Regions from separate parts of the Homo sapiens genome. Here region 2 is linked to region 1. Evidence: fine-mapped QTL for protein levels in blood plasma. A gene starts in region 1. The other region holds a variant in brackets. All regions are shown on one strand. Distances are from middle to middle. Region 1 holds the start of ITGB7 (integrin subunit beta 7). Region 2 overlaps ZNF740 (zinc finger protein 740).

Region 1 (5,000 bases):
TTGATCCTTCCACCTCAGCCTCCCGAGTAGCTGGTACTACAGGCGCATGCTACCATGTCTGGCTAATTATTTTTGTATTATTTTGCAGAGATGGGGCTTCCCCATGTTGCCCAGGCTGGTCTAGAACTCCTGAGCTCAAGCGACCCACCTGCCTCGGCCTCCCAAATTGCCGTGATTACAGGCGTGAGCCATCACCCCCAGCCAAATGTCATGTATTTATCATTTCACACGTCTGCAACTGAATCTGTAGGATAAATCCCTAGCAGAGGACGTGCAGGATAACTAGATAGGTATCATTTGTAATACTGGTGTGTATTTCATCTACATTCTCATGCTAAGAAATATATATATATAGGTGGGTATTGCCAACATAAACTCTTCAGGACTTGTACTGGTCCACATTCCCATCAGCAATGTATGAGAAAGGCCAACTAACTCCTTGTCATAAACCATTTGCATCTTCTTCAGCCTGGGCCCAGAGTCAGGTCCAGATACTCTGCACAGAGTGTGGGAAAGGGGTGGGGTGTTGAGTCCTTGAATGTCCTGGTCCTGCTCCCCACCACCTGTGACCTCAGGCGCCATATATAACGGAGCCTCCACCCCTCGGGGAGAGGCCAGTCCCAGCTCAGCCTCAGCGTAACCTCAGCCCTGCTTGCTCTGCATGCCTGTGGTCAGGGAGGCTGGAGATGCTGCAACCCAAAGCCGGGTTTTGACTCATCTCTCACAAGTGGAGCCCCGGCTGCCGCATAGGTTTTTCAGAGACCTTAGGCCCACTCATCTCCCCTTAAAGGGGGCCCTGGGACTTCCTGGACAGCCCTTTCCTACCTTTCTTTCCAATTATCCTCTCTTCTCCCCTCCTTGAGAATACATGTTCTGCCACCTATTTCTCTGTCTGCTTCTCTGTCTCTCTCTGGCTCCTTTCATTTCAAAACTTCTATTGCATCTCTCTGCTGCTTTTCTCTGCTCCACTTCTTCATAGGGCTATTTTACTTCCTTTTCCCCTCTGTTCCTAACTATAGAATGGCTGAATCTACTACTCCATCCCACTCTTTTTACAAATGGAAACCTAAATTCCATGAGGCCAGGGTCACCCAGTGAACTAGGGGCAGGGCAGGACAGGGCAGGGCCAGGCCTCTGCTGTGCTTTCTCCTTTCCTCCCTCCAACCCAGGCACTATCTCCATCAAAAGTTGTGTTCTCTCCCCACTAGCCCTGGTGGGCTCTGCCTAATCCCATTTCTCTTTCCTTAGGGGTATTCTGCAGTCTTCCCTTCTCTCTCTGGGACCAAGTGGTTATTTCCATTTTTCTGGACTCCATTCTGACTCCAGTACACACCCTGTGACCCCCCTCAGCAGCTGAGAAACAGAGCCTCTTCCAAACCCATCCCTACCTTCCAAATCAAGCAGAACCCTCTGCTGCCCACTGGGAGTCACAAGGAGGGGACGGAACTGAGCTGCTGGGCCTCAGTGTCCCAGGACAGTGGAGTCTGTGACCAAGGTGCCGATTAGGAAGAAGTCTGAGCTGAAGGCAGAGCATTAGGGATAGCAGCTGGGGGTGATGTTGGAAGAACCCTCCCTCAGTATAATCGGTATACCTGCCCTACTTCGGTATAGTCCTTGGCACATGGCAGGCACTCAGATGACAGCACTCATATACATCCCTGCCTCCAGACCCACTCATGGGAAACTGATGCAGGAGAGATTGGGCTTTTGGAGAGGTGGAGGTGGGGGTACTGTGAAACTGGAGGAGGGAACCAGGTCAGGGGATCTTAGGAATGCAGAAAGGAGTTCAGAGCCTTTCTCAAGTCTGGACAGGACCCTCGGTATCCAGGTCAGAGCCCTCTTCCCAAGAGGTTGGGACCAGGTGGGCCAGAGCTTGTAAGGAGAGGAGGCAGAAGGGCTGGTGCCCTGGTACTCACAGGTGCGTGCAGAGCAGTCCTTCCTCTGGCGGCAGCAGCAGCCTTTGTGTACTGATCTGGGAGACGGCAGAGGAGGAAGTGACACTCCCCAGGGTGGGGAAGATTTGGGGTTGGTGGGGGTGACTGATCTAGAAGGTGGTGCAGATAGGGGTGGGGCTGAGCCAAGGGAGTGGACAATACAGAGATCTGGAAGAAAGAAGCCCATTTATTGAACCCCTGTCATGTGTTGAACGTAACATATTACAATTAACCCTCACAACAATCTCATAAGATAGGGGTTAATATTCCCCCAAGCCCCAATTTTACAGATGCAGAGATTGAGGCTTGGAAGCAGGAAATAAAGAATTTTGCCCAAGGTCCCACAGCTAGTAAGTAGCTAGTCTAGGATTTAAAAAAAAAAAAGAAAAAAGATTTTTATTTTAAATTTTTATTATTTTATTTTTTTTATTTTAATTTAATTTAACTTTTGAGACAGGGTCTTGCTCTGTTTCCCAGGCACAATCTCAGCTCACTGTCCCATGGCACAATCTCAGCTCACTGCAAACTCCGCCTCCCAGGTTCAAGCGATTCTCCTGCCTCAGCCTCCCGAATAGCTGGGATTACAGGGGTGCACTACCATGCCCAGCAACGTTTTATATTCTTAATAGAGACGGGGTTTCACCATGTTGGCCAGGCTGGTCTCAAACTCTTGACCTCAATTGATCTGCCCACCTCGGCCTCCCAAAGTGCTGGGATTACAGGTGTGGGCCACCATGCCCAGCCTGTTTTTTATTTTTGAGACAGGGTCTTGCTGTGTTGCCCAGGCTGGTCTGTAACTCCTGGACTCAAGCAATCCTCCCACTTTGGCCTCCTGAGTAGCTGGGATTACAGGCACACTCGGCTGGTCTGGGATTTAAATCCAGGTCTGCCTGCCTCCAAAATTCATGATCTCTCCATTTACTTATATAGGAAGGAACATGATAGGAGGGAATAGGGGCAGTAAGTACTGTAGAGAGGCCAGAAATTACAGACTTGTTCATTTTGAAAACCCAGGATACATTATATAAGTGTGCTTGACTACATAGGCTCTGGAGCCAAGTTGCTAGAGTTCAAATCCTGGCTCTACTACTTACTAGTAGTAAGGAGCTTAGCTGAGTTACTTAAACCTGCCTGCAGCTGTTTTCTCATCTGTCCAGCAAGACTCACAGGATTGTCGTGAGAATTAAAAGAGATAATTCATATCAATTGCCTACAAGACTACCTGGCACATACTAAGTAAGGGCTTGATAAGAGAATTAGTAGGGATGAGAAGTAGCAGAGGTGAGAAGTGAAGAGGCTTTGAGAAATTCAAGGTCCACACAACTGGAAACTTGGAAGAGAGAGGCATAGGGCCAGGCTCAGAGCATGTGATTGGGGAACCAGGAGCCAACACAGTAGTGGATCCTGGGAAAGGGGTGGAGGAGGTGAACTGGGAGAAGCAGAGAGTGCAGGAACAACAGCTGAAGCCAAGGCAAGGATGAAGCCCGTAGGGAGAGCAGGAAAATATTAATGGGATTTGCTCCTGGCCCATACAGATCACTAAGAGCTTTGAGAGGGAACTAGACATGAGGTCTGTGTTCACAGGTCGATCTCCCCTACCAGAAGGAGCACTCCTTGTAGGCAGGGACTGGCTCTACAAGGCTTCCCTGCTGGAGCCACCACACCTAGCCAAGTGCCCATCTTATAGTAGGTGCTCAATAAATGTCAGATGGATTGCAGAGGTGTAGCTGCTAGGAGGGGACAATTGGAGAGGAGGGGCTCTTTCTCTGGGTGGGCTTGGCTGGCCTCAGGCTATGGGATAGCCAGGACCTATACCCTTCCCCCACAACCAGGGGTTACCACGGCAATGACCCTCCTTCCCCACAGGCCCTGTGGTTTCCTCTAGAGCTTCTTTCACTTTCTTCTTCTGCTTTCCGCCCTCCACTCTTCTCTCCCCTACTCCCACATCCTCAACTTTTTTGTCATAACCACAGGTCACCAATGAAGAGAGCCAGGAACAAGGTAGGCAAGGCACTGTCCCAGGGAAGGTAGGACACGGAGGAGGGGCTTGAGGGGAGTCACAGAGGGCGAAGGGAAGAGTACAGGGTGCAGCAGTAGAGGCCAAAGGCACTGCAAAGGCGTGTTGCAGAGGGAAGGCGTGTGGGAGCAAGGACAGATATTCGGAAAGAAGGTAACAGTGCAGGTGGCAGTGAGTGGAGGTCATGGGGTGAAGAGTGGGAACAGAGAGGGTGGGGGGAGTAAGGTATAAGGTGATAGCAGGGTGGTTGGGGACAGAAGGCCAGAGGGCTCCCTGGGTGAGGGGCTGGTGTAAAACAGTAACACTGTAGCTTAGATGCGGGCTTCTTCTCTTCTGGGGCCAGGAGCCCTCATGAGAACTAAATGAAACTTCAGGGCAGGCATGGTGGCTCACGCCTGTAATCTCAACACTTTGGGAGGCTGAAGTAGGTGGATCACTTGAGGTCAGGAGTTCGAGACCAGCCTAGCCAACATGGTGAAACCCCATCTCTACTAAAAATACAAAAATTAGCTGAGCATGGTGGTGCGCCCCTGTAATCCCAGCTACTTGGGAGGCTGAGGCAGGAGAATCGCTTGAACCCGGGAGGCAGAAGTTGCAGTGAGCCAAGATCACACCACTGCACTCCAGACTGGGCAACAGGAGTGAAATTCCGTCTCAAGAAAAAAAATGAAAAACAAAAAGATAAATAAAACTTCAATGGACTCCTTCCCCAGAGAAAAGCAGATATGCACATATGCATAACTGGAGGTGGAGACAGGCTTACAGACCTCTGAAGTCCATTCATGCCCTCCCAGAGATCCACAGGATCCAACATAAGAACCCACACCAAGCTAGACGCAGTGGCTCACGCCTGTAATCCCAGCACTTTGGGAGTCCAAGGCAGGCGGATCACCTGAGGTCAGGAGTTCGAGACCAGCCTGGCCAACATGGCGAAACCTGTCTCTACTAAAAATAAAAAAAATTAGCTGGGCGTGGTGGTGCACCCCTGTAATTGCAGCTACTCGGGAGGCTGAGGCAAGAGAATTGCTTGAACCTGGGAAGTGGAGGTT
Region 2 (5,493 bases), 17 kb before region 1:
TGTGGATACAGGTAATCCAGAGGCATAAGAGTCCTGGTCCAAAGTAGGGACTATAGCTGGTCCAGCTCTCCCCAAAAATTGGGTTTTTAGTTGCAGTAGCTCCTCAGTGTTTCACAATCCTGCACTTCGCCTCCTTTTTGAGGAAGAATAAGGTCAGGAATGGCAGCTGAGCTTACTTTGGCTTCCTTATACACTGTAGGGACAAAAGGAAAAACGGGGTGGAGCAGACAAGGGCTGGATCCAAAAAGTGGATGGCACCTCTTCCTTCCTCAAGGGAAAAGGAAGAGTTGTGCCAGTGGGTGTTGTCATGGCCCATGTCACATTGGCACCTGATGGCATCAGCTCAAATGCCTTTAGGAGGAAACTTGGGTGAGAGTGGCCCATGAAGCCCTTTTCTTCTTTTTTTGGGGAGTCGGTCTTGGAGATGGTATGTGGCTACCTCGCTGCCATTGACTCCTAAAGTGAGACAGATGTGTTGAGCAAGGAGTCATGGAAGTCAAAGTGGGTTCTCTCTCCTTGTGCCCTCTTAGGAACAACCCAAGACTGGTCCCAAGTTGGCTAACAGCTGCTCAAGAAACAAAGGAATCTGGGGTCTTCTGACATGCCTGTTGAGCAGTAGGAGCTGTTCTCCCTCCCCAAGTCCTATCACTGTATTCAGGTAGAGGAGGTAGGGAGGGGTCTGTCCTTTGGTCCCAAAAAACAAGATCTCGGCTTGCTTCCTGATGGCCATCCCTACCCAACAGAGTGTGGGGGATGGGGGTGGGGGTGCTGCAGAGAAAAGACTAAAGAAGAAACCTAATGTAGGTTCCATTCTTAACCATATTCTTTGCTCCTCTCTGCTCCAATACCACCACCTTGTCCACTCCCAAAAAAGTAATCGGGTGTGTGTGTGTGTGTGAGAGAGAGTGTGTGTGAGATATGAATGCATGTATTTGTATGCTTGCAGGAGATGGCATATTATTGAGCCAAACCCTTCTCTGGCCCTCACCTTCAGGGAGGATGAGTGGAAAATAGCCTCCTCTTGCCCAAACATGAAGGGTGCTTGAGGTCTCAGCAGGAGCTGAAGAACACAATTTGGGGAACAGAAGGGCTTTTGTTTTGGAGGGTTTTTTTTTTTAAGATGAATTCAACAGCCTGGTGGTTAGGATGTTTCTAACCCAAGCCAGGGCTTGTGAACATGAATTTTCTAAGGTGAAATAAACCTTTTCTTTCTGCTAAAGAAAGAATCCTTATGGGAAGTTTTGGGGTTTGGTTGACCCCCACTGTAACCTGACCTGACCTGTGGCGGGTACGGGAACTGTCTTAGTAATCATGGAGACTGGCTGAACCTGAGTGCCAAGCTGTCAGTAGGGTCTGAGATGGGAAACTCCTGAAAGTATGATTTCATTTCCCAGAAAATGTAAAGAATGGATACCAGCAATGATTCCTGGCTGTTACCTATTCTGGAGGGGTGGGGTTGGGGAGGGGGTTGTCCATACCTCTGTGGTATGAGTATTTCAGGGAAAAAGAAAGCAGGCATGGCACCCATTCGATTTTCCCTGACAGCATCTGAGATCCTTTTGGGGAGACGCTGAGGAGTGTTTGCTGCCATGTACTCTTACAGCTCTATGCTGACACTCCCATTTGATGTGGTCCAGAACTTAGACCTCAGTCCTTGGATCAGCCCTGTGGTCCCTGCAAGCAGGGGCATCTTTCTGCATGTGAGCCAGCCCCCTTCCTGTTCAAGGGTTCTGCTGGATCTGGGCTTTTCCTGTCCTTCACTTCTGGGATGATTCACCCCACATCTTCCAGTACCCTGTAAACCATTTTAAAATATTTAGAAAACTATCCTCCCAAAAATGCTTTTGAAAATGAGAGCCCTCTGTCCCTGCCACTTACAGCTAGTCTCTTTGGGATAGGGGTGTATGTGGAGAGATTCATGTAAGTCTCACATGAGTGACCTGTGCCCCTATGTGTACTAATGTGTGTACTGGGTCAGAAGGTGCCCTGGGTTCCCACAGACCTTGGTTTCCTGCCTGGGTGGGTGGGAGGGAGGGAACTTCAGAGAGTATGTGCGAACAGCCATAGCAGAGCCACCCCTGCCAAGGACCCAGTGAGGGAAACTCAGGAGCAGGTGGTTGGTTCAGTTCCCGCGCTGATGTCTGGGGCAGTGCATGTGTGAGAAGAGAGGCGCAAAGCAGTGAAAGGAGTGATTTGGCATCCAGAGGGCCCGGGAGCCCCACGGATACCCCAGGGAAGCCACTGACTCACACCGCTGCAGAGGCTCCTGGGCCCAATGCCCGACCCCTGCTGGCCAGCATGGGGCCTAGCACTGGAAGATGCCTCAGGTGTGTTTGGAGTGGGGGAAACGGAAGTAGGGCACGCTCTCAGAGACCAGGATAGAGAGTCAGGGAACCTGGGAAAGAGTAGTGCCAGTTCCGGGTAGGCTGCTGCACCAGGCCCTACCAGCTCAGGCTATAAACAGTCTGCTTTGCCCCAAGTCTTTTCCGTCCACCCCCAACAGCCTTGTCATCACTTAGCTACTGATCACGCCCATGGCTTGACATTGGAGGGTTACATTAGTGGAGTCCGCCACAGCTTCGAACCCTCTCCCCAGATGCCCTTTGCCTCTGCTGTGGCCCTGGGGTTTTATCAACTGTCCCCTTCCTATCCTCCTCTCCACCCTGTTTTTTGTTTTTTTTTTTTTTAAATAATATTTTGCTATGGGGGAGGGGAATATCAAATGGACAAGATCACTTTTAAATGGTAGTTTTTATAAGATGTTATAAACTTGTATCTTTTTACCATTAAAGTGCAGTGTATGTTCCTTCGTGATATATTTAGGATATTTAAATAAAAGGAAAATGGGGCTTTTCTACATACTATCTCCTCTTTGGGGAAGCTTTTTCATACTGGTTTTAGTTGTTTTCCTTTTTTCTCCCTACATAATCACCCCACAACTTCCAGCACCCTATAAGCCATTTTAAAACCCCTTCTCCACAGAGGAACAAGCAAGTAGGAGCAAAAACAGGGCATCAGTTCTGAGCAAGACGAAAAAGCACACGCAGCAGGACGGAAGGAGGCTAGACACCAACAGATGCAGTGTCTCTGACCTGGGACCCCCCTGCATCCGCAGCACTTGAGAATTCATAGGCCCTTTCCAGACCTGGCTTCCTGGGTCCCAGGGTGCACCCCGGGAGTTTCCTGCACATTCGCGCTTGGGCACCTCTCCCTGCCCTCAGGTGGCAAGAGGAGGATGGACAAGAGCTTTCCCGAGGCCCAGGCTATAAACAGTCTGCTTTGGCCTTGATGAGGTAAAGCAAAGTGACAGCTGTGGTCTGAGGTAAGACTTTATTGTATACTTGGGTGGGGTAGCCCAGATGGATGCAAGGTTGCAGGCATGGGAAGCAGCCCTCTTGGGTGTCACTCTGAAAATGAAGTAGGGTGGTGGCCGCACCTCGCCAGTGAATTAGTCCCCTACCAAGGTCTTACAGACCCACCCTTCCTCTCACCCTCCAGTTCCCACTGTCCTCCAAGGAGAAGAGCCTTGGGTAAGTGTCCCTCCCTCCTTCAGAGAGTGGGACTGTCTGCCTCTTGAAAGCGAGGATTGATGGTGGTCGTGATGGCACTTTTGTAGAGAGGATTACTGTCCTGGAGAAAGATGTTGCAGATTATAAGCAAAAATCCCAGGATTCCTCGTCCCCTTTCTAGACCTAAGAGGCCAGCCTTGAGCCGAATCCTAGGAGCTGATGGAAGTTAGCAGAGGGGTTGGTTACATGTGCCAGGGGCTGGGGGAACCCAGTGGGAGGAATCAGGGCTGGTCTTGTGGTGGGGGAACAGCTAAAAAGGGGCCTAACCAGGAAGTCTCCTCACCTGCTTCCAGTTGAGTTGTTGCTGCTCCTTCTCAAAGCGACTGTATTCCCGGCGGTCATAGATTTCCACCGAGAGCCGGTAAGCCAGGACCAGCCCCAGCCCCACTGCCACGATGCCCCCTACGCAGCCCAGCACAATGGCCTGCGTGTGGTCTGCTCCCTCTGTGAACAAGAAACCAGACACACTTGTGGGAGCTGGAGCATAGGGACAGATCATCAGTTGCTCACAGTGTGTCCAGCCTGTCCAACCCTGTCTGTCACTGAAAGCAAAGGGAACCCAGGGAGGTCCAAGGTTATCCTCACCGCCCAGGGCCTTAGCCTCGTCCACTTGCTCAATTGCCTCTGCCTTTGTCCTGGATTCACAGTTCTGCTTCAGCCCCCAGCCTGTTTCCCATTATCTTCACTCTGCATCCCCAGAGTTGAGACCCTGCCCATCAAACTTCCAGGGTTTGTGGCATCCCTGCCCACTTACTTTCTTGGGGTCTCACTCTGAGCACGACCGTGCCTCTGGCGTCATCCTCCACCAAGAAGAAGAACAGCTGGTTGTCCAGGGTCCGCTCTTTGCACCAGCCATCATCCAAGATAGGGGCCAAGGCCAGGGTCACATTGGTATGGGCACAAGCTGTACTGCAGTTGGTGGCCAGTGGGCCAGTCCTGAAGGCCCCACACTCTGCACAGTCCCTGTGTAGTAGATGCCAATAGGTTACCAGCTGGGCAGTTGTCACCCAATGCCCCTTGCCCAACTACAAGCAGGACGGAGAGTAGGCAGATGGGAGTAGCTCAACAAGCCCCACTGTGCCCCTGCTCCCAAGATGCAAGACCTGAGGCCTCACCGGTGTCTCTCGCATGGTGTCTTGCAGCCTGGGCATTGGTCGCATAGAGCACCATAGTAGC[C/T]GTCCAAGCACTGGCAGCGGTTGCATTTGCAGCGTCCATGCCCACTGCAGAGCCCTCCCTCGGGACTGATGCAACTGTCCATGTCCCCACTGCATTCGCATGCTCTGCCCGTGCGGTTGGCATGACAGTGACATACTCCACATTGGCAGCGACCAAAGCCTGGGGTAGAGCCATGCAGAGGGTGACAACCATACTCCACACACACAGTTGGCCATCATGTGGCACGACAAGCCCACGCATCCAATCTTTTTGAAGTATGCCAACCACACCCTCTAACCCATACACCGGAATCTTTTGATATTTGCCTTCCATGCCAGGAGATTCCCAGAGCCTAAGTGCCTTGGGAAGGCCTCTCAGACCCCGCCCTTCTCCCCAAGGCTCCAGGTACCTCCGCAGAGGATGCCCTCATGTCGCTCACAGCTGGCATCGTCACACTCGCACAGATGCCCAGAGCTCTGTCCACTGCAGCTGCAGCGTCCACATTGACAGTGACCCTTTCCACTGCACAGGGGCCCTGTGCCATTGGGAGCCCGGCACCCAGATTCCAGGTCTGGGGAGGACAGCTCTGCCACAGAGCACTCACAGAGCCGACCTAGGCGGCCAGGGGCACAGCTGGAAGGGGAAGGCAAAGGAGAGAAGTAGGTCAGAGGGTTTGATCACCCCTGACTTGTCTCTCCCAGGAACCTCTAAACCCAAGTTCTCAAAAGAGTTGGAGACAGACAAACAGCTGAAAGGATGTTAAGTATAG

Evidence for each region. PIP is the posterior inclusion probability: the model's chance that the variant is causal. Protein levels are from antibody-based Olink assays in UK Biobank. Linkage for the fine-mapping came from a reference panel and not from the study's own genotypes, which makes the PIPs less certain.
Region 2: its variant is fine-mapped to the plasma level of the ITGB7 protein (UK Biobank, PIP above 0.99). The variant lies in the coding sequence of ITGB7. If it changes the protein, the assay may bind it differently, which can mimic a change of level.

Annotation. Positions count from the first base shown.
Region 1 is chr12:53,205,286-53,210,285 of GRCh38, forward strand. It overlaps ITGB7 (integrin subunit beta 7), which reads right to left and starts at 1,966. Exons shown (of 16, transcript NM_000889.3): 1 at 1,917-1,966. RefSeq lists an enhancer at 6-95.
Region 2 is chr12:53,188,007-53,193,499 of GRCh38, forward strand. It overlaps ZNF740 (zinc finger protein 740), which reads left to right. Exons shown (of 7, transcript NM_001004304.4): 7 at 1-5,493. It overlaps ITGB7 (integrin subunit beta 7), which reads right to left. Exons shown (of 16, transcript NM_000889.3): 12 at 5,134-5,357; 13 at 4,685-4,904; 14 at 4,324-4,532; 15 at 3,853-4,013; 16 at 3,317-3,630. The coding sequence ends at 3,550. Among named protein-coding and RNA genes, the nearest start is that of CSAD, 9.8 kb to the left of the region's middle. RefSeq lists a silencer at 2,079-2,373. The variant C/T (reference allele first, on the strand shown) is at 4,746.